Linked DNA regions of Homo sapiens: region 2 is linked to region 1. The links come from fine-mapping of genetic effects on gene expression. A gene starts in region 1. The other region holds a variant in brackets. All regions are shown on one strand. Distances are between the middles of the regions.

Region 1 (12,704 bases):
CTTCAGATACACCTTCTCCAATCGAGACATGCCGTTCCACCGAAACCTGACCACCAAAATGCATAAAGTCAATAGAACCACTTTAGAAGTCTTGTCTTTACAAGAGAATAGCATGGATTTCTACATTTGATTACACTGGAGATTTCATTAAGAAATTATACTTTTGATTTTGTACCTGTCAATGAATGGGCAAAAATGATCTACATTTAACCAAAATACTAACACAAAAATTCTTGGGAAAAGGTTTTATATATGCAGTGGTCCATTAACTGGAATCCGCACAAGATTTGTACCACACGTCAGCTTTGCCTCATGATTTTATTGATGGGCCAAAAGTGAATATACATCTAGGTCAACTGCAACAATGTACTTGCTTTTCAGAAAATGCAGTTTTGACATCAGTCATTTTCTGTGCTGGCTTACAAAACAATTCTGGAAAAACTATGGCTAAGTCTTAAAGGCTACCTCTTCTGATAGGTGTTGAGGGTAGGACAATCAAGTTAGGATGGGTTTTCAGTTATTCTCATACAATCCTGCTTTGGATGTACCACCCAGAGAAGGCACACAAACTCAGAAAGACAGAGAGAAAAAAGAAAGCCACAGTGCCTAATCAGAGATTCATTGACCTATACATTGCATTACTCTAAAAAGGCTTCGAGGGCTAATGACATATAGTCAGAGCTCAGTAAGTATTGGCTAAATGGCAGGTAATATTTGTTGAATGGGTAATATGTACCACACACTTTACATGGATGAAGAAACTGAAGAAAAGAAAGGTTAAATCTTGAATGAGAGCTCCTGTGAGGTTCTGATAACATCTAGGGGATCATTCCTCTCTTCTTGGAGATTGCTCTTCTCTACTCACCTAAACAGCATCTCTATAGGTTATATAAGATATAAAGATCTGTTCTCTCAGACTTCAGTGGTAATGTCCAAGAGCTCCTTACTTGACAACGTGTTCCAGGATCTGAAGGCCAAAATGTCTGACGATGGCAACTTGTGTTTTCTCAGCCAACCTCAAGCCACAGGGGACACAGATAGGACACTTTTCTTTAAACTCCTCACAAAACTGAAAGAAGAAAAGTTAGTGTTTCCTTTCGAGGGCTGAGAGAATAGGGACTAAAAGAATTTCATCTTAAGAAACTCCAACCAGGGCCGGGTGCGGTGGCTCACACCTGTCCCAGCACTCTGGGAGGCTGAGATGGGTGGACTACTTGAGTCTAGGAGTCTGAGACTAGCCTAGGCAACATGGCGAAACCCCATCTCTATTAAATATATATATATATATATATTTTTTTTTTTTTTTTTTGAGACGGAGTCTCACTCTGTCGCCCAGGCTGGAATGCAATGGCATGATCTCGGCTCACTGCAACCTCTGCTTCCCAGGTTCAAGCAGTTCTCCTGCCTCAGCCTCCTGAGCCCATGTAGCTGGGACTACAAGTGCACGCCACCACACCCAGCTAATTTTTGTATTTTTAGTAGAAACAAGGTTTCATCATGTTGACCAGGCTGGTCTTGAACTCCTGACCTCAGGTGACCCACCTGCCTTGGCCTCCCAAAGTGCTGGGATTACAGGCGTGAGCCACTGTGCCCGGCCCACTAAAAATATTTTTTTAAATTAGCCGGGCATGGTGGCAGGTGCCTGTAATCCCAGCTACTCAGGAGGCTGAAGTGGTAGGAGAATCACTTGAGCTCGAGAAATCAAGGCTGAAGTGAGCCGAGATCTCACCACTGCACGCCAGCCTGGACAACCAGAGTGAGACCCTACTCAAAAAGAAACTCCAACCTAAGCTATATGTTTAAAGTTGCAAAACCTAGATCAATATTATGTGGATCTCCAAGCACAGTTGCTTTAAAAATATATATTTAATATAAAAATAAAAATATAAAATATATAAAAGTTACACATATATAACATTTCCTCCAAGTGGTGTTCACTCTATTTTATGTGTATATATTATATATATATTATGAATAAAGAACTGATAAACATTCCTTCCAGCGTGATGGTTCCAGATTTTTTCCATGCTACGGCCAACAGTAGCCCTACTAGTGTTGGAAAAAAATGGACACAAAGGAATAAGAAATTATTTGTTAGAGACATCCCCCTGACGTACATAGGGGTGAAATAACAATTTCTAGGGTTTCTTTTAAAAACCTTCGAGGCAGGGAGAGAGGATAGGCGGTGGAAAAAGTAAATGCGGTAAAATCTTTGATTGCTGAATTTAGGTGACAGGAACATGCAGAATCACTGTCGTATTCTCTCCACTTTTGTGTCTATTTTAAATATTAATAATAAAAACCAAACTAATGGAACCCAATTGTTTCTGATTCCAAACCCTGTGGCAGACATCTACATATTGTAACATTTCCTCCAAGTGGTGGTCACTCTCTTTTTTGAAGTTAACATCACTTTAAAAATGTACAGCACAAGTATTTTCTCCTAAATGGCCATTTCTCACAGCCCACACACGTTGTTTTATGGGCAAGTAAGCTTGAATTGTATTAACACCCCCAAACTGCAACATAAGTCAGTCCCAAGAGCAGAGCATTCGGGTCTCACGCAAACTACTTTCAGGAAACCAAAGTGCCCTTGTTAAAATGCAAAGTAAGTGGTAGAAGTTATCTTTGCGCAAAATAGCCTAAAAATATTACACTCAAAAACATGGGAGAAGTAGGGGTGCGAGAATTTCCCCGGAAAATGTCCAAGACACAAACGAAAGTTAGCGAGATGTTAAAGCATATAAGCATAAGGGTACCAGAGGGGCTGGAGCTCGGTCAGGGCCAGGGGAGTGGGCCAGCAGGAAAACGTTTAGTGCAGGAGAGACCATAAAGAACGAAGCTGGTGTTGGGGGCGGGATCTACACGTGCGCCTCGGGAAGGCGAGGGGATGTCGGGCTTGGGGAATGAAAATGGGCGAGGGTCATGTTGCGGACAAGAGTGCACAGAAGCGAGGAAAGGGGGAGGAGAGGGCTGTGGGAAGCTGCGGCGAGATGAGAAGCAGCATAGGGACCGGAGTGTCCCAGGCAAAGGACAGGAGCGGCGAGTAGAGAAGGCGGCGATTTGGGAGAGGCGCGGAGGGCCGCGAGGGGAAGGTCCCGGGGAGTTGGGAAAGGAGGTCCAGGGGCCGCGTGGGCGGGAGACTACCCCAGTTACAGGCGGCGCCGGAGCTGCTGGGGCTGGGAGAGGGTGTCGGGACCGGCCCAGGACGCCAGGACCCCAGCTACCTTGAGGGCTTCCAGCCGGTAGCGCTGGGTGGAGTTGGGGTCCATCATGACCGTCACCGCTTTCACCAGCTGCTCGCACAGCGCGTTTACTTGATCCATCGCCATGCCTAGCGCCACGCGCCGAGAGCGCACACCACTGCAGTCCCGGGACCACGAGGCACGACAGCTCCCTCGGCGAGACCACCCGTTGGTACCGGGCCGCGGCGGGCGGCGGGGGTGGGAAGCTGGAGGAGGAGCGTTAGCAGCAACTCGCGCTGGGAAGAAGCCGGCGCTGCGCACGCGCCCGGCCCGCCACTGCGCACGCGCCCGCGGAAGTGGCGGCTCCCGTGTGCAGGTTGAGCCTAGGTGGGCGGGGCGGGAGGCGGAAGGGCCGCGGTGCGCAGCCGCGTCAACGGCCCTTCGCAGCGGGCGCGCTGTCAGACCTCAGTCTGGCGGCTGCATTGCTGGGCGCGCCGCTCTCGTCTGATCCCTGCTGGGGACGGTTGCCCGGGCAGGATCCTTTACGATCCCTTCTCGGTTTCTCCGTCGTCACAGGGAATAAATCTCGCTCGAAACTCACTGGACCGCTCCTAGAAAGGCGAAAAGATATTCAGGAGCCCTTCCATTTTCCTTCCAGTAGGCACCGAACCCAGCATTTTCGGCAACCGCTGCTGGCAGTTTTGCCAGGTGTTTGTTACCTTGGTAAGAAAATTTAGAACCGTTCGCTGTCACTGTGTTCAGACTTTCTATGTTGCCTTGGCTATTGGTTTTATAATGTAGCAGTGACTGGGCCAAGGTTGCGTGAAATATAAATCATGCTAACAGGGATAAGGCCCTGGTACTGTCTTCTAAGATTTTTCTTGTAGAAAAAAGTATGTTTTTCCCTGTAGTTGTTAAACCTCTCTCTTGGAATTACTTTCCTGGATGTATTATTACCTGGTGGGCACTAAACTTGTTTTGTGCGGATTGGGGTAACTCGAGATGTTTAAAGGGAATAATTGCAATCAGTGAAGGTTTGTGCAGTTTTGATAATTGGCCAAGTGCTATGTATAAGGTTTCAAAGTAGTGTAATCCTTATCCAAAAGCATGGCTTGGGCAGAAAGTCTTCTTCATTTTCCATCTTTATAAAGCTCTTGGCCGGGCGCGGTGGCTCACGCCTGTAATCCCAGCACTTTGGGAGGCGGAGGCGGGCGGATCACCTGAGGTCAGGAGTTCGAGACCAGCCTCACCAACATGGTGAAACCCCGTTTCTACTAAACATACAAAAATTATGTTTGCATTTTTAGTATTTTTATACAGGCGTGGCGGTGCGCGCCTGTAATCCCAGCTACTCGGGAGGCTGAGGTGGGAGAATCGCTTGAACCCGGGAGGCGGAGGTTCAGTGAGCCGAGATCGCGCCTTTGCACTCCAGCCTGGGCGACAGAGCGAAACTCCGTCTCAAAAATAAATAAATAAAGCTCTTGCTTTCTCCAGTAAATACATAAACGGAAAACCTCAACAGCTTTATTATCTGTTAAAGTCTGCATGTCTGTTTTTGTGATTGTGTGCTTAGTAAATTGTGTGCTGAACATAAATCACTGCTTCCTATTCTTGCTCCACTTCTGGTATTTGGATCTAATATGGTGCTTAGCCTGTGTTTTTTTGTGTTACAATACTATTTGTTGGCTCAGTCTGTTCCAGTACTACTGAAAAGCCACTTCAAAGTAGAGGGACTTCTGGCATGTTATAGTTTTAACTTGTAAATGTTTAAAGTATCACATTCTGCCTGTTTTAGGCGTGGTCGATTGGAATTTATAAGGAATTAATGCTTTGACTGCTCTGATTTTAATTATTTTTCTTTCCACTCACCTTCCTGCTTTGCAGTTGTAAGACGTTTTTTTTTTCAAGGTGAATGTTAGTTTTTGAAAAACTTTTTTTAGAATACAGTTGGGTGCTCACTCAACTGTATAACCTGTGTTTCTCGTATTTAAATCATGGATTGCTGGTGTTTCGATTGTCTTATTTAGGTCTTGGCTCCCAAACTGCTGCATATTGGAATTACCTGGAGAGCTTTTAAAAATCCCCGGCCTGGCGCGGTGGCACACGCCTGTAATCCCAGCACTTTGGGAGGCCGAGGCGGGCGGATCACGAGGTCAGGAGATCGAGACCATCCTGGCTAACACGGTGAAACCCCGTCTCTACTAAAAATACAAAAAATTAGCCGGGCGGGGTGGCACGCGCCTGTAGTCCCAGCTAATGGGGATGAGGCAGAGGAATCACTTGAAACCGGGAGATGGAGGTTGCAGTGAGCTGAGATCTCACCACTGCACTTCAGCCTGGGTGACAGACGGAGACTCTGTCTAGGAAAAAAAAAAATCCCCATGCTAGGCCGAGCGCGATGGCTCACGCCTGTAATCCCAGCACTTTGGGAGGCCGAGGTGGGTGGATCGCCTAAGGTCAGGAGTTAGAGACTAGCCTGGCCAACATGGTGAAACCCAGTCTCTACTCGAAATACAAAAATTAGCCGGGCGTGGTGGCGTGCGCCTGTAATCCCAGCTACTCAGGAGGCTGAGGCAGGAGAATCGCTTGAACCCGGGAGGCGTAGGTTGCAGTGAGCCGAGACTGTGCCATTGCACTCCAGCCTGCGCAACGAGAACGAAACTCTAACTCAAAAACAACAACAACAACAAAAAACTCATGCCCAGGTCATACCCATACCAATTAAGTTAGTATATATAGTTGTGGAAGTCAAATATCAGTAGTATTTAAAGCAGCCTGGCGGGGGGACAAGAGCGAGACTTTGTCTCAAAAAAAAAAAAGTGTCATGGTCATGAAAAACAAGGAACAACCGAGGAAATGCCACAGATTGGGGGGCAGTAAAGTATGTAGTTAATAATATGCCAATGTTCATTTTTAAATTTTGGTAATTGTGTTAAGTAAGATGTTAACATCAGGAAACTGGGAGTAGGAGAACTCTACCATTTTTGCGATTTTCTGTAAGTCTAAAAGTATTTCAGAGTAAAAGGTTGACATTTTTCATGAATGCTATGATGTTATATATTATTTTCTCCTTCTCTTTTCTCTGAATTTATACTTGAGATTTGTCTGTCAACTGATTCCGTATTGGTTCTCTTCCCCTGGTGATGTGCATTTTAATTTCCATTTCCCCATGACTAATGATGGTGAGCCTATTTTTATGTGCCAATTGGCTATGTTTGTATTTTGTGGTTAGTTCTTTTAAGGATAAGTATTTTTAAAGCTTTTAATACCTATTGCCTTCATAAAATTGTACTAATTTATCCTTATGCCAGCAGTACAGGTTGAGTATCTGTGATATTGTGATATATGTATGTTAGTTTTTGTCCACGGTTCCTAGCTCATAACTCCCCTAGCTTTCGTTATAATGTTGGAGCTCTTGAAGCAAGCCTCAGAAAACAGAATCTCTCTCTGGCCTTCTGCCCTCCTTTCACCTGCCCAAAGCAGGACTCTAATCTTCCCCTGCCTTTCTGATTATGGGTCATAAGACTTTCATTTCAGAAGAGTTCCTACCCCATACCCTGGAGAAAGGAATGCTACCCAGAGAGGCCAGGAAGAATCTGGACAGGCCTTGCTGGGTTTCCCCAGTCTATTAGTATTAGATCATATCTTTTTTGTCCAGTCACATTTCTACACGGATGTCAGTCATGCCTATCCAATGAAGTTTCCATAAAAGGCCCAAGAGGAGAGGGTTCGAAGAGCTGCTGGATAGGAGCAAAAGGAAGTTCCTGGAGAGTGGTGTTCCCAGGGAGGGCATGCCTTGCCATGTGTATCTCTTCATCTGTATATCCTTTATAATAAACTAGTAAATTTGATTACCTGAGTTCTGTGAGCCACTCTGGCAAATTAACTGAACCCAAAGAGGGGCTCATGAGATTCCCAATTTATATCCAGTCAGTTAGAAGCACAGGTAAAACAACCTGTGGCTTGTGATTGGCATCAGAAGTAGGGGGCAGTCTTGTGGGACTGAGCCATCAACCTGTGAGATCTGACGCTTTCTCCAGGTAGATAATGTCAGACTCGAATTGGAGGATACCCACTTGGTGTCTGCTGCAGAATTGATTGCTTGTTTGTTGGTGGGGAGAAATCCTCACACATTTGGTCACAGAAGTCTACCTTATTGATTGTTGTTGAGTGAAAGAATCTTTTTTTTTTTTTTTTAAATTTATTTTTTTATTGATAATTCTTGGGTGTTTCTCACAGAGGGGGATTTGGCAGGGTCATGGGACAATAGTGGAGGGAAGGTCAGCAGATAAACAAGTGAACAAAGGTCTCTGGTTTTCCTAGGCAGAGGACCCTGCGGCCTTCCGCAGTGTTTGTGTCCCTGATTACTTGAGATCAGGGATTGGTGATGACTCTTAACGAGCATGCTGCCTTCAAGCATCTGTTTAACAAAGCACATCTTACACCGCCCTTAATCCATTTAACCCTGAGTGGACACAGCACATGTTTCAGAGAGCACAGGGTTGGGGGTAAGGTCACAGATCAACAGGATCCCAAGGCAGAGGAATTTTTCTTAGTGCAGAACAAAATGAAAAGTCTCCCATGTCTACTTCTTTCTACACAGACACGGCAACCATCCGATTTCTCAATCTTTTCCCCACCTTTCCCGCCTTTCTATTCCACAAAGCCGCCATTGTCATCATGGCCCGTTCTCAATGAGCTGTTGGGCACACCTCCCAGACGGGGTGGTGGCCGGGCAGAGGGGCTCCTCACTTCCCAGTAGGGGCGGCCGGGCAGAGGCGCCCCTCACCTCCCGGACGGGGCGGCTGGCCGGGCGGGGGGCTGACCCCCCAACCTCCCTCCCGGACGGGGCGGCTGGCCGGGCAGAGGGGCTCCTCACTTCCCAGTAGGGGCGGCCGGGCAGAGGCGCCCCTCACCTCCCGGACGGGGCGGCTGGCCGGGCAGGGGGGCTGACCCCCCCACCTCCCTCCCGGACTGGGCGGCTGGCCGGGCGGGGGGCCGACACCCCCACCTCCCTCCCGGACGGGGCGGCTGGCCGGGCGGGGGGCCGACCCCCCCACCTCCCTCCCGGACTGGGCGGCTGGCCGGGCAGAGGGGCTCCTCACTTCCCAGTAGGGGCGGCCGGGCAGAGGCGCCCCTCACCTCCCAGACGGGGCGGCTGGCCGGGCGGAGGGCTGACCCCCCCACCTCCCTCCCGGACGGCACGGCTGGCCAGGCGGGGGGCTGACCCCCCCACCTCCCTCCCGGATGGGGCGGCTGGCCGGGCGGGGGGCTGACCCCCCCCCACCTCCCTCCCGGACGGGGTGGCTGCCGGGCGGAGACGCTCCTCACTTCCCAGATGGGGTGGCTGCCGGGCGGAGAGGCTCCTCACTTCTCAGACGGGGCAGCTGCCGGGCGGAGGGGCTCCTCACTTCTCAGACGGGGTGGTTGCCAGGCAGAGGGTCTCCTCACTTCTCAGACGGGGCAGCCGGGCAGAGACGCTCCTCACCTCCCAGACGGGGTCTCGGCAGGGCAGAGGCGCTCCTCACATCCCAGATGGGGCGGCGGGGCAGAGGCGCTCCCCACATCTCAGACGATGGGCGGGCGGGCAGAGACGCTCCTCACTTCCTAGATGTGATGGCGGCTGGGAAGAGGCGCTCCTCACTTCCTAGATGGGATGGCGGCCGGGCGGAGACGCTCCTCACTTTCCAGACTGGGCAGCCAGGCAGAGGGGCTCCTCACATCCCAGACGATGGGCGGCCAGGCAGAGACACTCCTCACTTCCCAGACGGGGTGGCGGCCGGGCAGAGGCTGCAATCTCGGCACTTTGGGAGGCCAAGGCAGGCGGCTGCTCCTTGCCCTCGGGCCCGCGGGGCCCGTCCGCTCCTCCAGCCGCTGCCTCCCGGGCGGCGCTCGCCGGCGCGGCGGCAAAGACTGAGACAGCTCTGCTGCCCGCTGAACTCCATCCTCCCGGCGGTCGGGCGGCGGCGGCTGCGGTCGGTCGCGGCAGCGGCTCCGCTTCATATCTGCAGCTGGGGCCCGCGGGCGTCAGCGCCGCGACTGTCCCGGCTCCGCACTGCCCCGGGCCGCAGCGCAGCCGCGCCAACCACCACCCGCGGCCACCATGGCCGGACGGGCTCCCTAAGCCACCGACCCCAGCCCGCGGCGCCTTCGAGCCTTCTAGGGCCTCCGGCGCCGCGACCTCCTCTCAAGATCGAGTGAAAGAATCTTAAAAACTGTTTTTTCCACTCAGGGTATCCCTAATCTGAAATTTGAAATCTTCCAAAATCCAAAAAATTTTTTGCACCAACACAGCATTCAAAGGAAATGTTTATTAGAGCATTGTAGGTTTAGGATTTTTGGATTACGGATGCTTAACTGGTGATTATAATGCAAATATTGCAAAATTTGAAAAAAATGCAAAATCTCAAGCACTTTGGATCCCAGCCATTTCAGATAAGGGATACTCAACCTGTATATTTAAATGCCTATTTCATTCTTGTTAGTTTCCATGCTCCCATGCTCATGGTAACTCATCAGTGAAAGAATGGAATTACAGTTTTCCCTGGCATTTTGGATTAGGTGTTTTTCTAACTGTCCATAAAATGTTGTGTTACAGAAAAATGGCTACTGGACAGGATCGAGTGGTTGCTCTCGTGGACATGGACTGTTTTTTTGTTCAAGTGGAGCAGCGGCAAAATCCTCATTTGAGGAATAAACCTTGTGCAGTTGTACAGTACAAATCATGGAAGGGTGGTGGGTATGTATCATTGTTATTGTCACAACTATTCAATGGTAACACAGTGGCACTGTGGCAGGTCCTTTGTTGTTGTGGTGGTGGTGGTGGTGGTGACAGGGCCTTTCTCTGTTGTCCCATCCAGAGCGCAGTGGCACCATCAGCTCACAGCAGCTTTGACCTGGGCTCAAGTGATCATCCCTCTTCAGTCTCCCAAATAGTTAGAACTACAGGAGCGCCCCACCATGCCAAGCTGATTTTATTTTTTGGGGGGTGGGTAGAGATGGGGATTGGTTGGGGGGGCAGGGCTCACTATATTGCCCAAGCAGGTCTTGAACTCCCGGCCTCAAGCAGTCCTTCTGCCTTGGCCTCCCAAAGTACAGGAATTGCCAGCATGAGCTGCTGTGCCTGGCCCTATTTTTGAGATTTCTGAACTGCTTTGTTTTGGATTGAATGATGGCATCTGTGGTCAAAAAGTTTCTAATATGTTTATAGATTACTTGTGTTAAATGTTACTTGTTTTTGCTTGTGATCATATAATATGTTTTCTGTTTCCTTTTTTTTCTAACCTTAGAATAATTGCAGTGAGTTATGAAGCTCGTGCATTTGGAGTCACTAGAAGTATGTGGGCAGATGATGCTAAGAAGTTATGTCCAGATCTTCTACTGGCACAAGTTCGTGAGTCCCGTGGGAAAGCTAACCTCACCAAGTAAGAAAAAAACATTATTTAAGGAGACATAAAGGAGTCGAAAATAATACTCCATGAGGCTAGGAACTGGTGTTTTGAATTTGTTCCATGTAAATAACACCGGAAAAAATTCTTTTTGGTTAGCCATCTTGTCTCTGTGAAATGAAAAACAGATTTTAATATTGTGTTTTGGGGACAGTTCAAAACCATTATACCATATAAGAGTTGCTGCCTTTGATATCTATTCAGTTCCTTAATTGTTCAAAATTGGTTGTTAAATTCAGACTTAATACCAATTCCCATGTTCTCCATCCAAAAATCTAAAGTATTTGAAAAATTGACTGTGAAACTGAGAATTTTTCCAGGAAAGGCTGAGTCAAACTGACATTGTAGTACAATATCAGGAATTAGTTGCTATAATTGAACAATATCAAGGGAGATTTCTCTGTTTTTAGATTAAGCTATCTCTCCGCAAATATTAGAAGTTTCACCTTGGAATGGGGGATATGAATCAGCATAGCTAAGTCAGAGGTAGGCACAAACCCCAGCCTTTAATCCTAACAGCTAATATGTATTAAACATATTATCACATGCCAGGCACAGTGTTAAGCTCTCTATAGGCAATATCTCTATTAAATCTGACATTGTTATAAGGTAGGTACTAATATTACTCCCCCTTCACAGATAAGGAATCAAGTTCAGAGAAGTTAAATAATTTAAGTTAGGCTGGGGATGGTGGCTCATGCCTGTAATCCTAGCATTTAGGGAGGCTGAGGCGGGCAGATCACTTGAGTCCAGGACACCAGCCTGGGCAACATAGGGACCAGCCTGGGCAACATGGGGAAACCCCATCTCTAACAGAAAATACAAAAATTAGCCAGGCATGGTGGCACACACTTGCAGTCCCGGCTACTCAGGAAGCTGAGTTGAGAGGATTGCTTGAGCCTGGGAGGCAGAGGTTGCAGTGGGCCCAGATCACACCACTGCACTCCGGTCTGGGTGACAGAGTGAGACCCTGTCTCAAGAAAGAGAAAAGTTCAGACAGCTAAGTGAAAGACTGAGGATTCACATCTGTTTTTTAAGATTCTAGTATCTATGTTCTCAAGGTACACTATACTATGTGTTGTGGTATAGGAATCATGCTTTGACTTAGGACCTGACATACTTCTGAATTCTAATTCTAATTCTATGAATTAGAAGTCTAAAGGTAGAGTGGCATACAGACCCACATTGGAATTATTGCTAGAAAAGAAGATAGACTTGACTGAAGATTAAGTTTTCCAAATACTCTTAAAAATACCTTGCAGTGATTTGCTCAAGAGGCTGTGAGGAAGCACTGAAATAGAGTATTGTTTTAGAAAAACTCAAACTATGGTTTTCCTCTCCTCTCACACCACAAGAACAATCAACACAGAAGACATCTGTGACCAAAGGTGTGGAAGTATTTCCCCACACACCAATCAGCAGACACCAGCTGCATGTCCTCGCACTCAATTCCAACACTGTCTACCTGGAGATGGCATCAGATTCCACATGTTGAGGGCTCAATACCACAAGAACACCCCCTCCTTCCTTTCCATCACAAGTCCAGGCCTTTAGAACGTCTGAACAGCTGGCTTTAAGTTGGGGTTCCTGCAACCCCCTCTTTGGATTTGATTAATTTGCTGAAGCGACTCACAGAACTCAGGAGAACACTTACTTATGTTTATTATAAGGGATATTACGAAGGATACAGATAGGTTGGGCATGGTGGCTCACGCCTGTAATCCTAGCACTTTGGGAGGCTGAGACAGGAGGATTGCTTGAGCTCAGAAGTTTGAGACCAGCCTGGGCAACATAGTAAGACCTCGTCTCTACCAAAATTAAAACAAAAACAAAAACAAAAAAATTTAGCTAGACATGGTGTTGTGCAGCTCTAGTTCCAGCTACTCAGGAAGCTGAGGTGGGAGGGTCGCTTGAGCCCAGGAGATTGTGGTTCCAGAGAGTCATGATCAAACCACTGCATGCAGCCTGGGCAACAGTGAGATCCTGTCAAAAAGAAGATGAAGATGAAGAGATATATAGAGCAAGGCATGTGAGAAGGGGTGCGGAGCTTTCATGCCCTCCCTGGGTGAGC
Region 2 (16,987 bases), 30 kb before region 1:
GGATCACCTGAGATCAGGAGTTTGAGAACCAGCCTGGCCAACATGATGAAACCCTGTCTCTACTGAAGATACAAAATTAGCTGGGCATGGTGGCGCACGCCTGTAACCCCAGTACTTTGAGAGGCCAAGGAGGGGGGATCACCTGAGGTCAGGAGTTCAAGACCAGGCTGGCAAACATGGTGAAACCCTGTCTCTACTGAAGATACAAAATTAGCCAGGCCGGGCGGATCACGAGGTCAGGAGATCAAGATCATCCTGGCTAATACGGTGAAACCCTGTCTCTACTAAAATTACAAAAAATTAGCCAGGCGAGGTGGCGGGCACCTGTAGTCCCAGCTACTTGGGAGGCTGAAGCAGGAGAATGCCGTGAACCTGGGAGGCAGAGCTTGCAGTGAGCCGAGATGGCGCCACTGCACTCCAGCCTGGACGACAGAGCAAGACTCCGTCTCAAAATAAATAAATAAATAAACAAAATTAGCCAGGCATGGTGGCACACACCTGTAATCCCAGCTACTCAGGAGGCTGAGACAGGAGAAGCGCTTGAACCTGGGAGGTAGAGGTTGAAGTGAGCCGAGATCATGCCTTTGCATGCCAGCCTGGGCAACAAGAGTGACACTCCGTTTCAAAAAAAATAAATTAAAAAATCGATATGGGGTCTTGCTACGTTGCCCAGGCTGGTCTCCAGCAATGTTCCTGCTGTGGCCTCCCAAAGTGCTGAGATTACAGGCATGAGCCAACATGCCCAGCCCCATTTTTCTTAAGCTTTTGAATTTACTGATGTTATCACTAGTATTTTCAAAGAACCAGCTTTATTTTTATTAAGATTTTAAAAAATTGAGGCATAATTCACATAACATAAAACTAACCACTTTAGGAGTACTATTCAGCCATAAAAAAAAAAAGAGATCTTGTCATTTGCAACAATATGGATAGCACTGGAGGTCATTATGCTAAATGAAATAAGCCAGGCACAGAAAGACACATCACATGTTCTCACTCTTTGTGGAATCTAAAAATTTAAACAATTCGACTCATGGACATACAGAGTGTAAGGATGGTTAGCAGAGGGGCTGGGGAGGGTAGTGGTGGGTTAGGGGTAAGGTAGGGATTGTTAATGGGTACAAAAAACCCACAAAGAATGAATAAGATCTAGTATTTCCTAGCACAATAGGGTGACTATAGTCAATAATAATTTTGATTGTACATTTAAAAAGCATAACTGCAGTTGACTATAACTGGATTGTTTGTAACACAAAGGATAAATGCTTGAGGGGATGGATACCCCATTTTAATTGATGTGATTATTATTATGCATTGCATGCCTGTGTCAAAACATCTTATGTACCCCATAAATATATGTATGTACTGTGTACCCACAAAACTTTAAAAAACTAACAAAAAACATCCCCACCAAAACCTAACCATTTTAAAGTTCACAATTCAGTGGTATTTAATACTTTCAAAGGGTTGCATAAGTAACCTCTACCTGGTTCCAAAACGTTTCCATGGCCCCCAAAATAACTGCCAGGCCCATTAAGCAGTAGCAGTTGATCTACACTTTCTTCTCCTCTCCAACCTGAGGCAATCGCCAATGTACTTTCTGTCTCTAGATATTTCATAAAAATGAAATCATACAACATATGGCCTTTTGTGTCTGGCTTCTTTCACTTAGCATAATGTTTTGAAGGTTGATCCACAGTGTAGTAATTATCAGTACTTCATTTTGTAAGTACTGTAGTAATCCAATACTTCTTTTTTTCTTTTTTGAGATAGAGTCTCATTCTTTCTCCCAGGCTGGAGTGCAGTGGCACGATCTTAGCTCACTGTAACCTCCATCTCCTGGGTTCGAGTGATTCTCTTGCATCAACCTTTTGAGTAGCTGGGGTTACAAGCATGCACACCACCACGCCTGGCTAATTTCTGTATTTTTAGTAGAGATGGGGTTTCACCATGTTGGCCACACTGGTCTTGAACTCTTGACCTCAAGTGATCTGCCTAAGGCCTTAGCCTCCCAAAGTGCTAGGATTACATGCATGAGCCACCGCACCCGGCCGATTTTAGAAATCTAGTGTGTATTTTATACTTACAGTTCATCTCAATTCAGGCTAGTCATTTTTATTTTTTAATTTTTATTTTTTTTCTCTAAGGAGCTTTCCAGAGAAAACTGGAAAGCCTACCAGACCAATTCTGAAAGTACTGTAACACTTGACTAGTAATACTTCAAGTGCTCAATAGTTTCATGTGGCAAGTGGCTTCCATGCTGGACAGCACAGCTTCAACACCTTCTATTATCAGATTATTTGACGCAGGAGGTGCTATGAATACCTTGCTACATTCTTAAAGCAAACTTTTCTCTACTAAAAAAATAGTAATTTATTTATTTTTCAATTTTTTTTTTGAGATGGAGTCTTACCCTGTTGCCCAGGCTGGAGTACGGTAACATGATCTCAGCTCACTGCAACCTCCGCCTCCCAAGTTCAAGCGATTCTCCTACCTCAGCCTCCTGAGTAGCTGGGATTACAGGCACCTGCCACCATGCCCAGCTAATTTTTTTTGTTGGTGGTGGTGGTATTTTGAGTAGAGACGGGGTTTCACCATGTTGGCCAGGCTGGTCTCAAACTCATGACCTCAAGTGATTCACCTGCTTCGGCCTCCCAAAGTGCTTGGATTACAGGCGTGAGCCACTGTGCCCAGCCAAAAAATAGTAATTTAAAACTCCCAACTCCAGCATATAACTGGTGGGAATATAAATTAGTATAACCACTTTAAAAAGCAGGTTGCATCTATAAAAACAGAAAATACACATTTCTTATAAGCTAGGAATTCTACTCCTATGTGTGTATCCAACAGAAATTATATATATATGTTCACAAAACGTATTTGACATAAGAATGTCAACAGCAGCATGATATGTAATATTAAAATATCACCCAAAGGTCCATCAAGGCTGAATAGTTACAGCATATTCACACAATGAAGTATCATACAAGCAAGGAGAACAAAAAAAACACAAGTACATTCATGCAGTAACATGGATGAACCTCAGAAACAAAATATTGAGCGAAAGGAAGGCAGACACCAAAAGGTGCATACTTCTGATTTCATTTTCACAAAGTTCAAAAACCTGGACAAAATGTTAAAAGTCAGAATAGTGGGCTGGGTGAGGTGGCTCACATCTGTTATCCCAGCACTTTGGGAGGATCTCTTGAGCCCATGAGTTCAAGACTAGCCTCAGCAACATAGAGAGAACCTATCTCTACCAAAAAGTTAAAAATTAGCTGGGCATGGCTGCTCATGGCTGTAGTCCTAGCTACTCAGGAGGCTGAGGTGGGAGGACTGCTTGAGCCCATGAGGTCGAGGCTGCAGTGAGCCGTGATCGCAACACTGCACCCCAACCTGGGCGACAGGATAAGATCGTGCCTCAAAAGTAAGTAAGTAAGTAAATAAATAAATAAATACAAATCAGAATAGTAGTTATCTTTGAGGGGCAGGTAATTACTGAAAAGAGGTATTAGGTAAAGTTGCTTCTTGATCTGAGTGCTGATTACATGAATGTGTCCACTTTGTGAAAATTCATCTACACACACTCACAAGTTAAGCCCTTTTCTACATAAATGTTACACTTCAAGATAAAATTTATTTAATTTTTTTTTTCTTTTTTGAGACGGAGTCTTCCCTGTTGCCCAGGGACAGGGAAGACTCTTCCCTGTGATCTTGGCTCACTGCAACCTCCACCTCCCAGGTTCAAGCAATTCTCCTGCCTCAGCCTCCCGAGTAGCTGGGATTACAGGCGCCCGCCACCATGCCTGGCTAATTTTTGTATTTTTAGTAGAGGTGGGGTTTCACCATGTTTATTGGGCTAGTCTCGAACTGTTGACCTTAAGTGATCCATGCGCCTTGGCCTCTCACAGTGCTGGGATTATAGGCATGAGCTACCGCGCCCAGCCAATAAAATTTACTAAAAAAGCAAAACTCTTAATAGCTCCAGCTACACACTATTCAAGCAATCTACTCTATCATTACATGCTAGGCATTTTTCAAAATGCCTTTTGATTGATTTTTGGAATTCTCTAAAAGCACTGAACTCTTAGAAAAGTATCAAAATGATAACCATCTGAAGACTAAGAAAATAGAGTCCTTAAAGTCAAGCTGAGTCTGCTGTTAGCCTCCTAAATGAAAGGATAGACAGAACAGGTCTTGTTTGCAAAATAAATTCAAGACCTACTTATCTACCGACAGCAATTATACACTTTCCATTGTCTTTCTATAGAAAATAGGAGTAGTAAATTTATAGAGGAAAAAACTGGAGAAAGACATAGTGAACACATGAGAATCTTCCTCTACTGATTGATAGGAAGGTGACTAGAAATTGAAAAGAGATTATACTTTTTTAAAAAAAGAAAATTATATAAAAAAAGATAATCATACTGTTGTCTTGTGGCCTCTAGAGTCAACCAGAAATGAACCCTGTTTCCACGTCTGGGTTGGCCACATAGATTCTGGCCACAGGCCTAAAAAGGTCTAGGTGATTAGCTTCTTGCCCTATGATTTCCATCACTTTCACGTTTCTCTAGCTGCAGAAGAACCTTGTGGTTTTAAAAAACATCACTATGGGGCTGGGTGTGGTGGTTCACACTTGTAATGCTAGCACTTTGGGAGACTGAAGCAGGCTCAGCTGTCCGAGACCAGCCTGGGCAACATGGCAAAACCCCATCTCTATTAATAAAAACATCACGATAGAAATAAGCCTCTTCTTGACTAAATGTTTAACCCTCTCAGTACAAGTCCTACTTCTTTTCAGAGATCTCTTTCCTCCTTTAGAAATCAAAAGAAAATATTATTTATTTATTTATTTATTTTGAGATGGAAGTCTCACTCTGTCGCCCAGGCTGGAGTGCAGTGGCGTGATCTTAGCTCACTGCAATCTCCGCCTCCCGGGTTCAAGCGATTCTCCTGCCTCAGCCTCTCGAGTAGCTGGGATTACAGGCATGTGCCACCATGCCCAGCTAATTTTTGTATTTTTAGTAGAGACAGGGTTTCATCATGTTGGCCAGGCTGGTCTGAAACTCCTGACCTCAAGTGATTGACCCACCTTGGCCTCCCAAAGTGCTGGGATTACAGGTGTGAGCCACCACACCCCGCCAAAATATTGTCTATTTCCACAGACATGTCCACAATGACAACTTTATCAGACACTCCAGCCCTCCAATTTGTCAACATTAACTTAAAATCTTTGGTTCTCAGGCTTCAGGTCTTGGGTGTCTATTCCCAGGAGAGTTTCACTGCGACATGAATAATTTGGTTTGCCCCGTTGAGACTGCTTTTACTCCTTGGAGAAGGGGCCAAAAAGTACTGAAACAGAGCTCTAACAATGTAATTTAAACATCCTGTGAGAGGCCAGGTGTGGTGGCTCACTCCTGGAGTCCCAGCACTTTGGGAGGCCGAGGTGGACTGATCACTTGCGGCCAGGAGTTCGAGACCAGCCTGGCTAACATGGCGAAGCCCTGTCTCTACTAAAAATACAAAAATTAGCCAGGAGTGGTGGTGCACACCTGTAGTCCCAGCTACTTGGGTGGCTGAGGCAGAAGAATCGCTTAAGCCTGGGAGGCGGAGGTTGCAGTGAGCCAAGATTGCACCACTGCACTCCCAGCCTGGGTGACAAAGTGAGACTCTGTCTCAAAAAAACAAACAAACAAAAAAAAAACCAATCCTGTGAGATACAAAAAGCACTCTTTGGCCAATAACTGAATTATATAAAAAAACCTATCTTTTCATTTAGAGACCATCCCTGAGTCATCAAATATCTATATCTAGTAACTGATAAGCCTATACTGGCCTACTTCCACTTGAATATATTAACTCATGTGATCTAAAACAGTGATTCTGAATGTTTAATGTGTATATAAACCACTGGGCATCTAGTTAAAATGCAGATTCTGATTTAGTATGTCTGGGGTGGGGCCTTGATTCTGCCTTTGAAATAAGCTCTCAGGTGATGCTAATGCTACTGGTCTTAGGACTCAGCTTTGAGAACCAAGGATCTAGCAAACTCAGATGAAAAATTTATAATTCCTTTGTTTAGCATGTTCAGCCAGCGGTTGTTTGGTTCATCTGAGCTCAGACTCAGTATTGATAAATTCAGATTAGCTCATATGAATACCACCTAGACAAGCATCATTATAGAAGGCAACTGCCCTGCTCCCAATGAGCAATTCCTTTACTAAAAAATTTAGACCAAATAAAACTTACAAGTAAAAATAGGGATGAAGTATAAAGAAATGGAAGAACAACAAAGAGGAGGCTCAAAATGGGAAAAGCCCTTTTGGGATTATCCCCTTGGGTTCACATGGAAATTAAGATTTATGCAAGTGAGAGCTGATGTTATTTTTTTTAAAACTGAGACACCCTCTAGAAAGAAATAAGACTTAAATCAATCCCTCATTAATACCACTAAGATATGAAGACATGTAAACAGACTAAACTTTTGAAATTTTTAAGGTAAAGTAGAAAACAACAGAGAAAAGCCATTATTCTGACTCACCTTATAAGCGCAAGCAAATTGTCAAGAAGTTTCAGAATCTGCTCTGTGCAGGGGTTACGGAAGATTGGATTTCCACTGGATGTATAACCCACCACAAATCCCCCAGCTTTGGCCTCTTCTAGGTCAGTGGGCCAGCAAGTTCGTTTCACCACACCCAGAATGCTGTATACACAAAAGCTCATCTATAGAAAAATAAGAATGACAGATAAATATTAAAAGGAAAAAAAAAAAAAGACCAAATACTGTTAGATATATTCAAGGTTCTGGCAAAAGTGACACAGAGGCCAGAGAGAATGAAATAATCCTCTGCTCCCCGGCAATCCCCCATCCCTTCCTTTAAGGTGAAGTCCAAGAGGGATCCTCTCACTGCCATTTTCAGGGCCAGTGGTAGGCTCTGGAAACTTCCCTTGCAGTAAGCTGTCTTTCTAGGAGCTGCAGTGACCCACCCACAGGACCCTGATGAGAAGGTGGCTTAGATACGATCCAAAACAAAGTGTTTAAAATGCCATCACTTCATCTTCTTTGAGTTGACCCTTATTGGGCCTTGACAGCTAGTGTCCTAATCCCCCCTCACGGTACTCTGAATCAACCTACTACTTGCCAGGTTAATTAATGGGACTTGTGCCATAATGGAGCCAGGAACAATGCTTATTTAAATAGCAAAGCACTGAAAAATCTCAGGTTTGCAAGTTAAGCCATCACTTAAGACTTTACATGCCAGAGAGCAATGGCAGGGAGGACTCACCCTGCTGACCAAGTTCTGACCTACTTCCTCATTACACCTTCAG[T/A]CTTCAGAGCTATTTAGAGATCCTTAAAGCCAAAATAATGACTTCATAGAAAAGACCATCTGCTCTGCTGTGGGAACTAACTCAAGAATTCAAGACTAAAGAAGAAAAGAAAGGAGAAGCTTAGGGAAGTGGAGACTCCCACGTTTCTCACCAGTATAGAAAAAACAAATCTATGAGAAACTTGACAAAAGACAACACCCTACTCCTACCCATGGCCAATGCCACTTCCCATTCCCAGGAAAGTCTTACTCGTGCACGGTTTAAGCCACACGGATCCTCCAGGCCTGGGTCACAGCTCTTCTGATCTGTACCCACATACGCAATGAAAGCATCAACATCTGACAGCACTCTGAAGGTTGGAGGGGGAAAAACAAGTTACATCATGACTTTAAACAAGGACAGTTTCTTCCACAGGAGTTAACAGGCTATCATTATTTGGCCCTTAAGAGCAGTTTTTATAGTGAGAGGAGTATAATCATACTAATTGTCAGTTGTCATTTGAAGGTTTAAATTTCCCTTCCCACTCCCAAATATTATTAGTAACAATTTAAGAATTAAACAAGAATATAATCTTCAAAATATAAAGAAAATAATTTCTCTACTGTGTGAGCACAGATAAGTGTCTGTGTGGTTGTATGGCCCTTCCTAGCTGTTCTCATTTTTCTAAATGTGCTGGTGCTGCAATGCAGACACCACAGGAGTCTCACTCTGTGCCCTCCCCACCCACAATCTAATTGAACCAGAGATTAAATTACAAAAGACTGCTTTTAGAGAACTTCAGATATCATGGATAATGCCATCACACTTCAATATCCTTAACCCCTACCCCACCCTGGGCCTAGCTCTTAAACCAAAATGGGTGCTTGAGTATAGTAAGAGTCAGGGCAAGGGATCTCCTTTACCTGTGCATGTCTTGAGAAAGCCAGATGCTGGCCACTGGTGCCATCAGCTCCTCTAGGAACACCTTCTGACGCTCGTAGTTCTTAAATTGGTTGCTAATGAGAACCAGGGCTTCCATGAGGGCACACTTCTCCATTTGTGTCAGGAGTAGCTCATTGGAGAGGAGTTGCTTCACATGGTTATAAAGCATGTCAAAATTGGGCTACAGATCAAAAAGAAAAAAAGCCAGAGGTGGTAAAGGTCTGATTTTCAAGGAGAGGTGGCTTACTCAAGGAAGAAAGAAGAAAACCAAAGCAGTCCCAGGAAAGTCAGGCCTATAAGGTTATTATTTGGTAATTCTGTTATATGTCTTTATTTTGCCTAAATAAGCAAGGCAATTTAGGCGGAAGATAGCTCTTGTCTTGAGTATTTGGATAACTGCACTTTCCCATACTACAACTGTGAAAAGATCAGCTTGTTTTATATATATATATAGATATATATGTATATCTATATATATATGGAGATAACTGCTGTGCATTCAGAGAAGAAATTTCTGGATAATTTGTAATCTGGAGTAATGTTAAATTTCTTATAACCCCATGCCCCAAAAAGGGTTGTGATTTGCATCTGCTTTTCTCAAGATCAGGCACATCATTTGGCAGTAGTAATTAAGATCATCACATAGTAAAGAGTTGTAGAATTATAGGGGTAAACTTAGTAATCTATATGGCAGAGAACTATTTGTATTTTGAAGAGAGATTACATTTGCCATCACATTTCTAACTATACTACTAAGTATACTAAGAAAACACCAATTCAAGAATGTTTATTTATTTATTTTTGAGATGGAGTTTCGCTCGTTGCCCAGGCTGGAGCAATGGCGTGATCTTGGCTCACTGCAACCTCCGCCTCCTGAGTTCAAGTGATTCTCCTGCCTCAGCCTCCTGACTAGCTGGGATTACAGGCATGCACCACCATGCCCAGCTAATTTTTTTGTACTTTTAGTAGAGACCGGACTTCACCATGTTGTCCAGGCTGGTCCCGAACCCCTGGCCTCAGGTGATCTACCCACCTCAGTCTCCCAAAGTGTTGGGATTACAGGTGTGAGCCACCATGCCCGGCCAAGGATGCTTATATGATGCAAAGCTATAGTTTCTAGTTTTTTCTTTATGTGAGGTACACTGAAAGCTGGATTTACACACAAATGTAACCAAACTTGGCTACTTCAGCCAGGGTCCAGCAGCTTACCAGCACAAGCTGGGGGTAGTCACGACACATCTTGATGATGGAGGAACAAGCATGCCTCCTCACATTCCTCACTGCCCGGGTTCTGGGGGCCTGAAAAGAGACATTCAACAAACTCGGAGCTGCTTTTAATATAATATACAGGTGCTGCATAGACTCATGTGAATATCTCAGTCAGGGGCAAATTCACAATGATTTTTCACAACCCTAAGAGTATAATGGAGTAACATTTATAGCCACCAAGAATCCATGTTTCTTGTATGCCCTATAGTGGCAAAACAACATATATGATAATCTACCACCCTTACTACCCCCTCCCATTTATATAAAAATATAAACTGAGTATCAGGTATTCATACATTTGTACTCAAGAAGTTAGAATCTATTGGTTTAATTAATGGTCTTACCTTACTTTCTTCAACAGTTTCAAAAGTGACAGATGAAAATAGCTAAGGGAGAGGAGGAAAAAAGGTCACTCATGTTTATTTGTTTTAGAGATGAGATCTTGCTATGTTGCCCAGACTAGACTTGAATTCCTGGGCTCAACTGATTCTCCTGCTTTAGCCTTCTGAGTAGCTGGGACTACGGGCATGAGCTTATTCATACTGTCCATTTTCTCAGATAACCTCTACAAGAGTCATCGGAGTCACAATTTTACCATCAAAACATTTTACAATAGGATCCCAGAACAATTCATGCCATCACCCAAGCACTTGGCTATGGAAACGCCTCTCTCTTCTTTTATCAAAAGTTGTATGGTCTATCCCTTCTATTCCATTTCATTATTTCCCATTTACTCCTCATTCCAATGAAATATGGCTGCTTACTTGGCCACTATTATGGAATTAAACTCAGACAAGAGTGTAGTCAAGAAACTCACTGGGCATTCTCCAACTCAAATAATTTGCAACAAATGAGCCCACTTTTCTGAAGTCCTACTGGTCTTGTGACACAACATTTTCTTCATTTCTCTGGCTCTTTTTCCTTCTGTGGGGGCTTCTCATTTTTTTCTCCACTCCTCCAATGATGGTGATTCACTAGGTTCCTCGCTTGACTCACATGTCTCCTAACTCTACATACATAATCACTTCAGTAAGACTTCACTTTTAGTCGTGGGACTACTATGATGATGATGCTTTAATTTTATCTCATTACTTTCTAGAGTCTAGATCTTCAACCTCAAATAGCCAATTTATTGTGAGATGTCTCCATAAAGATGTTCTACATATTCTTCAAACACAGTATTCCAAAATACTCATGCTTTCTCTTCTTTAGTCCCGTTCTCCTTTGTGATCTGGTATTCTGACTCAGGGAGTGGCTCTATCACCCACCTAGTCAACTGAACTGGAAACCTGGAAAGTGTTCCTTCCTCTCATAAATCCCCTCCCTGCCCGACAGCACACTCTAATACTCTCCTTTATACAAGTCTTCATTGCAATGCCATATAGGTAACATTAACTGTTTTTGTGCCTTTCTTCCCAGAGTGTTCCTAAAGAGTGAGGCACTAGCATGGTACCTGATCCACAGTAAGTACTGAGTAGATATTTAATAAATGAATAAATAGCTGTGTTTATTAGTTTGCCTCACATAATTTTAAAAATAGTTACAAAAATAATTAGCCTAGGCCAGGCATGGTTGTGCATGCTTGTAGTCTCAGCTACTCAGAAGGGTGAGGTGTGAGGATCCCTTGAGACTAGTAATTTGAGTCCAGCCTGGGCAATGTAGCAAGATCCTGTCTCCAAAAAAATAAAATAAATAAAAATTAACTTAGAAATGTCAAAATAAAATTTACAAAGGAGATGGGCTTTATACCTTAGAGAAGACCTGGGGCAGGAACTCTGGTCTGTAGGTGACAAATGGAAAGAGTGCAGAGACATTAGTAAGGACGCAGGACAGGATGAGGGGATCCTTGGTATCAAAGTTCAGAACCATCTGCAATAGCTCTATTCCATCATTAACAGGAATTTCCTGTAACAAAGACATAAAACAGGTTGACAATGGCTGCCTCCACTTAGAAATAACCATTTTGGCTACATTTTATTTTCATCTTTTAAAGAGACAGGGTCTCATTCTGTCACCTAGGCTGGAGTGCACAGTGGCACAATCATCACTCACTGTAACCTCAAACTCTTGAGCTCAAGGGATCCTCCTGCCTTAGCCTCCTGAGTAGCTAGGACTACAGGCGGGCACCACCATGCCTGGATACTTTCTAAAATTTTTGTAGAGATGTTGTAGAAGTGTTGTTATGTCGACCAGGCTGGTCTCAAACTCCTGGTTTCAAGTGATCCTACGGCCTCAGCCTCCCAAGTAGGTGGGACTACTGGCACGCACCACCATGCCTGGCTAATTTTTTAAATTTTTAGTAGAGATGAGGTCTCACTATATTGTCCAGGCTGGTCTCAAACTCCTGGGTTCAAGCATTCCTCCCATCTTGGCCTCCCAAAGTGTTGGGATTACAAGTGTGAACCACCGTACTCAGCTGTGCGTGCCCTTCTTACCATCTTCTCAGCAGTGTATTATTCCCTAAAACCTCTTAAATTTTGTATTTCTTCAACTGATCAAGAGGCTGAATGTTTTTCATATTTATCAGCTACTTTATTTATATATCACTCTTGGTTGCCCAGTGCAATGGCACGATCTCAGCTCACTGCAACCTCCACCTCCTGGGTTCAAGTGATTCTCCTGCCTCAGCCTCCTGAGTAGCTGGGATTACAGGCACCCATGACCATGCCCGGCTAATTTTTGTATTTTTAGTAGAGACAGGGTTTCGCCATGTTGACCAGGCTGGTCCTGAGCTCCTGACCTCAGGTGATCCACCCACCTTAGCCTCCACGTGCTAGGATTACAGGCCTGAGCCACTGCGCCCCACCCTTTTCTTTTTTTTTAAGACAGAATCCCACTCTGTCACACAGGCTGGAGTGCACTGGCGTGATTTTGGCTCACTGCAGCCTCTGCCTCCTGGGTTCAAGCGATTCCTGTACCTCAGCCTCCCAAGTAGCTGGGATTACAGACATGCACCAGCATGCCCAGTTAATTTTTGTGTTTTTAGTAGAGACAAGGTTTCACCATGTTGGCCAGGGTGGTCTGGAACTCCTGAACTCAAGTGATCAGCCAGCCTTGGCCTCCCAAAGTGCTGCGATTACAGGCATGAGCTACTGCGCCCGGCTTATCAGCTACTTTAGGTTCTCCTCTATACATTATTGGATTATATCTTTTGTCTATTTCTCTATAATTTAGTAAATCCTCATCTGCCTACTTTAAGAAATATGATTTTACTGATACAGTTGAGGCTCTCTGTGCATACCCTCCTTTTCAGACCTACAGGTGGCCACTATACTGGTGGCGTACAGTATTCTAAAGCAGTGTGGTACTTAAAATGTATACTAAATGTGGTAGTGCTTAGAGTTAGAAAGACCTGAGTTTTGGTCCCCATTTTGCCATTTATTAGCTGTTTGAACTTGAGTATGCTATTTAGCCTCTCTAAATCTGTTTCCTCTTCTGTAAGATGTACATCCATAGATTTTCCTATTCTACTACCAGTTTACTGGCCAGGCATAGTGGGTCATGCCCGCAATCTCAGCACTTTGGGAGGCCAAGGCAGGAGGGTCGCTTGAGGCCAGGAGTTTGAGATCAGCCTGGGCAACACAGACTCCATTTTTATTATAAATTAGCCAGGTGTGGTGGCAAGTAACTGTAGTTCTAGATCCTCAGGAGCCTGAGGTAGGAGGATTGCTTGAGCCCAGGAGTTGGAGGTTACAGAGAGCTATGATTGTGCCACTGCATTTCAGCCTGAGCAACAGAGAGATATAGCGTCCCAAAATAGAAAGAGAAAAGAAAAGAAAAAGGTCAAAATAATCATGCAGTCAGCATGGGAAATAATTACTTACTTCTCTATTTAGTGTTCGAAACATCTGGGTGATAACACTTTCCAAAAAAAGAGTCATGGCTTCCCACTGCACGAATGAAGGTGAGAAGACGGAACAGAGGCTTCCTTCTCCAGTTCCAACTGCAGAACAAGCTTTAAAACACACACACACACATACACACACACACACACACACACAATTATCAGCATTGAAAGATCGCAGAAGACACAGAGAGACAATGGAGCCTTAGAGAACACCTGAGAATTTCATGATTGAAGGAGCAGGGTAATCTAACCCCTCTCAGCTGGGGCAAAGAAAAGATGATGTGTGCTGAAAGCAATGAGGTAGGTGAAGGTTCCTACCATGCCTCCTCCTCCTCTAACAATGAGCGGTCTGAATTCACCTCTATGAGCCTTGTAGTAAAACCATTTTGAGTAATGAATGAGAATACGCAGGTGAACATCAAAAACATTGCCTGGCCCATTAGTAGGCACTTGATAAACATGAATTAGTTTCTCCCCTCCTCCCCCTTTATAATCTTTTCCATGAGAATCTAAATAATTAAAATTGAGACCATAAAGAATCTTCCCAATAAGGAAACAATGTAATATACAAAATACTGCTTCACATCCAATAGCCTCATGACAGCCTTAAGGGCTATGTCTAGAGAAGGGTGCCATCCTTCAAGTTTACAACTATTACCACAGCACAGCACTCAAATAGCAAGGCACAAGCAAAAAGATTTACCAACTGCTTTTCTTTTTTTGTTTGTTTGAGATGGAGTCTCCTCTGTCACCCAGGCTGGAGGGCAGTGGCGAGATCTCGGCTCACTGCAACATTAGCCTCCCAGGTTGAAGCAATTCTCCGCCTCAGCCTCCCAAGTAGCTGGGATTACAGCCACCTGCCACCATGCCCGGCTAATTTTTGTATTTTTTTTTTTTAGTAGAGACGAGGTTTCACCATCTTGGCCAGGCTGGTCTTAAACTCCTGACCTTGTGATCCACCCACCTCAGCCTCCCAAACTGCTGGGATTACAGGCGTGAGCCACTGTGCCCAGCCGCTTTTCTTTTCTTTTTTTTTTTTTTCTTTTTTGAGATGGAGTCCCGCTCTTTGCCCAGGCTGGAGTGCAGTGGCACGATCTTGGCTCACTGAAACCTCCACCTCCTGGGTTCAAGTGATTCTCCTGCCTCAGCCTCCTGAGTAGCTAGGATTAAAGGGGCCCACCACCACGCCTGGCTAATTTTTTGTTTTTAGTAGAGACAGGGTTTTGCCATGTTGGCCAGGCTGGTCTTGAACTCCTGACCTCAGGTGATCCCCAGCCTCGGCCTCCTGAAGTGCTAGGATTACAGGCGTGAGCCACCCTGCCTGGCCTAAGATTTACCAATTGCTTTTCTTGCTTACATACAGCGTAGTCCTATTTACTAGTTTCATCTTAGTGCAACACATTTGGGCTTCCTCAACCTTTCAAGTTACCAAATATCAGAGAATTTAGAGTCAATTGTAAATAAAGCTGAATGTTAAGTCCCTCAAATGTCAGCCAGTAGTATGGTGCTTTTCTAAAGCAGTGACGTGCACTAGTTAATTCACTTTTTTTTTTTTTTTTTTTTGAGATGGAGTTTTGCTCTCGTTGCCCAGGCTGGAGTACAATGGCGCCATCTCGGCTAACCGCAACCTACACCTCCTGGGTTCAAGCGATTCTCCTACCTCAGCCTCCCAAGTAGCTGGGATCACAGGCATGCGCCACCACGGCAGCTAATTTTTTGTGTTTTTAGTAGAGACAGGGTTTCTCCAAGGTGGTCAGGCTGGTGTCAAACTCTCGACCTCAGGTGATCTGCCCGCCTTGGGCTCCCAAAGTGCTGGGATTACAAGCGTGAGTCACTGCATCCAGCCTTTTTGCTTTATTAATACTGTCACACACATATAGCATGCATTAAGATGAGAGACAAAACATTTGGAGTACAGAGAAGTTAACTGGCTGAGGCATTCGGTAGAGGGGGATTATTCTGAATTTATGTAAAGTATAATTTCACAAAAGCTTTGGAGTGGCTGAGTGATATGAGAAGTCCCTGTATTATTCCTGTTATGTCTAACAGGAGATCCTTTCTGATTTCAGGAATAGTGCTATGCAAGACTTTGGCTGAAAAGTTTTAAAGTTAGGTCTACGCATGAAATTTGTTAAGCTGGTGCCTGAAGTGAAGCAAATAAAATCAACAATAAATAATTGGTTGATTCTGTTAGAAATGGAAAATGATGGCAAAACTGATAAGGACATGGTTTTACCCTAATTTAAAACAAATTTAAAATGTGTCATCTGCTTTCTTTGTGTCAGCCAATGAAAACGCTCCCTCTCCAGGATGAGCAAAGCTATTTTTGAATAGTATAAGTATATCGTTCTGATGTGTGTATAGCTCAGGCTCATTTCCTATATATAGTTTTGATACTGTCCTAACATTTCACTAACATTCAGTAATGAAAAAAACTTACAATTCACAGAACCAGCATCAAGAAAAGTTGATAGTTGATACTTTAGCCACTCCCCAGCCATCTGGAAGCTAGTTTTGGGATCCAAACGACATGCCAACCTCATCACCTCTCCTTGTTGTGCTCGGGAGGCTGCCAAGAGAAAATGCCAAGGGAAGGACAGGAATCAATAACTGGTATAAAATAAGTACTTAATGTTTATTAATTTACCACCCTAGGGGAAAAGCATTCAAAGGAACTGTTTTGCAGACTTGTGCTTTGCATGTAATAATCACTCAATAAAACTTTATTAACGAATCCAGAAGTTTTTGAAAATAAATGATCTCTGGAAACTGTATTACCAGCTAGATCCTGTAAGTGGCAAACTAAACTTAGTCTCCCATTTCTGTTTGAATTAAAAGGAAATCAGGATTGGGCACAGTAGCTCACGCCTGAAATCCTAGCACTTTAGGAGGCCAAGGTGGGCAGACTGCTTGTGCCCAAGAGTTCAAAACCAGTTTGGGCAATACAGTGAGACCCAGTCTCTACCAAAAAATACAAAAAGTAGCCAGGTGTGGTGGCATGCTCCTATAGTCCCAGTAACTTGGGAGAGTGAGGTAGGAGGATCAGCTGAGCCCAGGGAGGTGAAGATTGTAGTGAGCCATGATCGCAGCACCACTCTTGCCTGGACAACAGAGTGAGACCATGTCTCAAAAAAAAAAAAAAAAAAATTTTTAAAAAGTAAATCAGGTTGGTGGTAATAAAAAATGGTGCAGCTGCTGTGGAAAATAGTCTGGCAGTTCCTGAAAATATTAAACTTGCAATTGCCATATTATCCAGCAATTCTACTCCTAGTTATATATCTAAGATAAACAAAAACTTATATCTAAACAAAACCTTGTATATAAATGTTCATAGCAGCATTATTTGTAATAGCCAAAAAATGGAAATAACTCAAATGTCCATCAACAGATGAATAAATGAGTAAATGTGGTATATCCATACAATGAAATATTAGCAATAAAAAGAAATGAAGGCCGGGTGTGGTGGCTCACGCCTATAATCCAGCACTTTGGGACGCCAAGGCAGGTGAATCAGCTGAGGTCGGGAGTTCGAGACCAGCCTGGCCAACATGATGAAACCCAGTCTCTACTAAAAATAAAACAATTAGCTGGGCATGGTGGTGCATGCCTATAATCCCAGTT

What was found. PIP is the estimated chance that this variant, and not a neighbour inherited with it, causes the effect.
Region 2: its variant is fine-mapped to the expression of XPO5 in testis (GTEx, PIP above 0.99).

Annotation. Positions count from the first base shown.
Region 1 is chr6:43,572,533-43,585,236 of GRCh38, forward strand. XPO5 (exportin 5) reads right to left here and starts at 3,506. Exons shown (of 32, transcript NM_020750.3): 1 at 3,228-3,506; 2 at 948-1,069; 3 at 1-46. The coding sequence starts at 3,332. It overlaps POLH (DNA polymerase eta), which reads left to right and starts at 3,653. Exons shown (of 11, transcript NM_006502.3): 1 at 3,653-3,908; 2 at 9,784-9,924; 3 at 10,475-10,609. The coding sequence starts at 9,788. RefSeq lists a silencer at 3,453-3,652 and enhancers at 3,673-3,922, 5,251-5,751.
Region 2 is chr6:43,540,030-43,557,016 of GRCh38, forward strand. It overlaps XPO5 (exportin 5), which reads right to left. Exons shown (of 32, transcript NM_020750.3): 13 at 15,807-15,935; 14 at 13,344-13,474; 15 at 11,269-11,424; 16 at 9,864-9,905; 17 at 9,460-9,549; 18 at 8,232-8,431; 19 at 7,579-7,678; 20 at 6,542-6,723. It overlaps LOC124901522 (U7 small nuclear RNA), which reads right to left and starts at 2,207; the gene lies at 2,146-2,207. It also overlaps a transcript of POLR1C not described here and LOC124900224. RefSeq lists a silencer at 2,276-2,325 and an enhancer at 6,940-8,139. The variant T/A (reference allele first, on the strand shown) is at 7,330.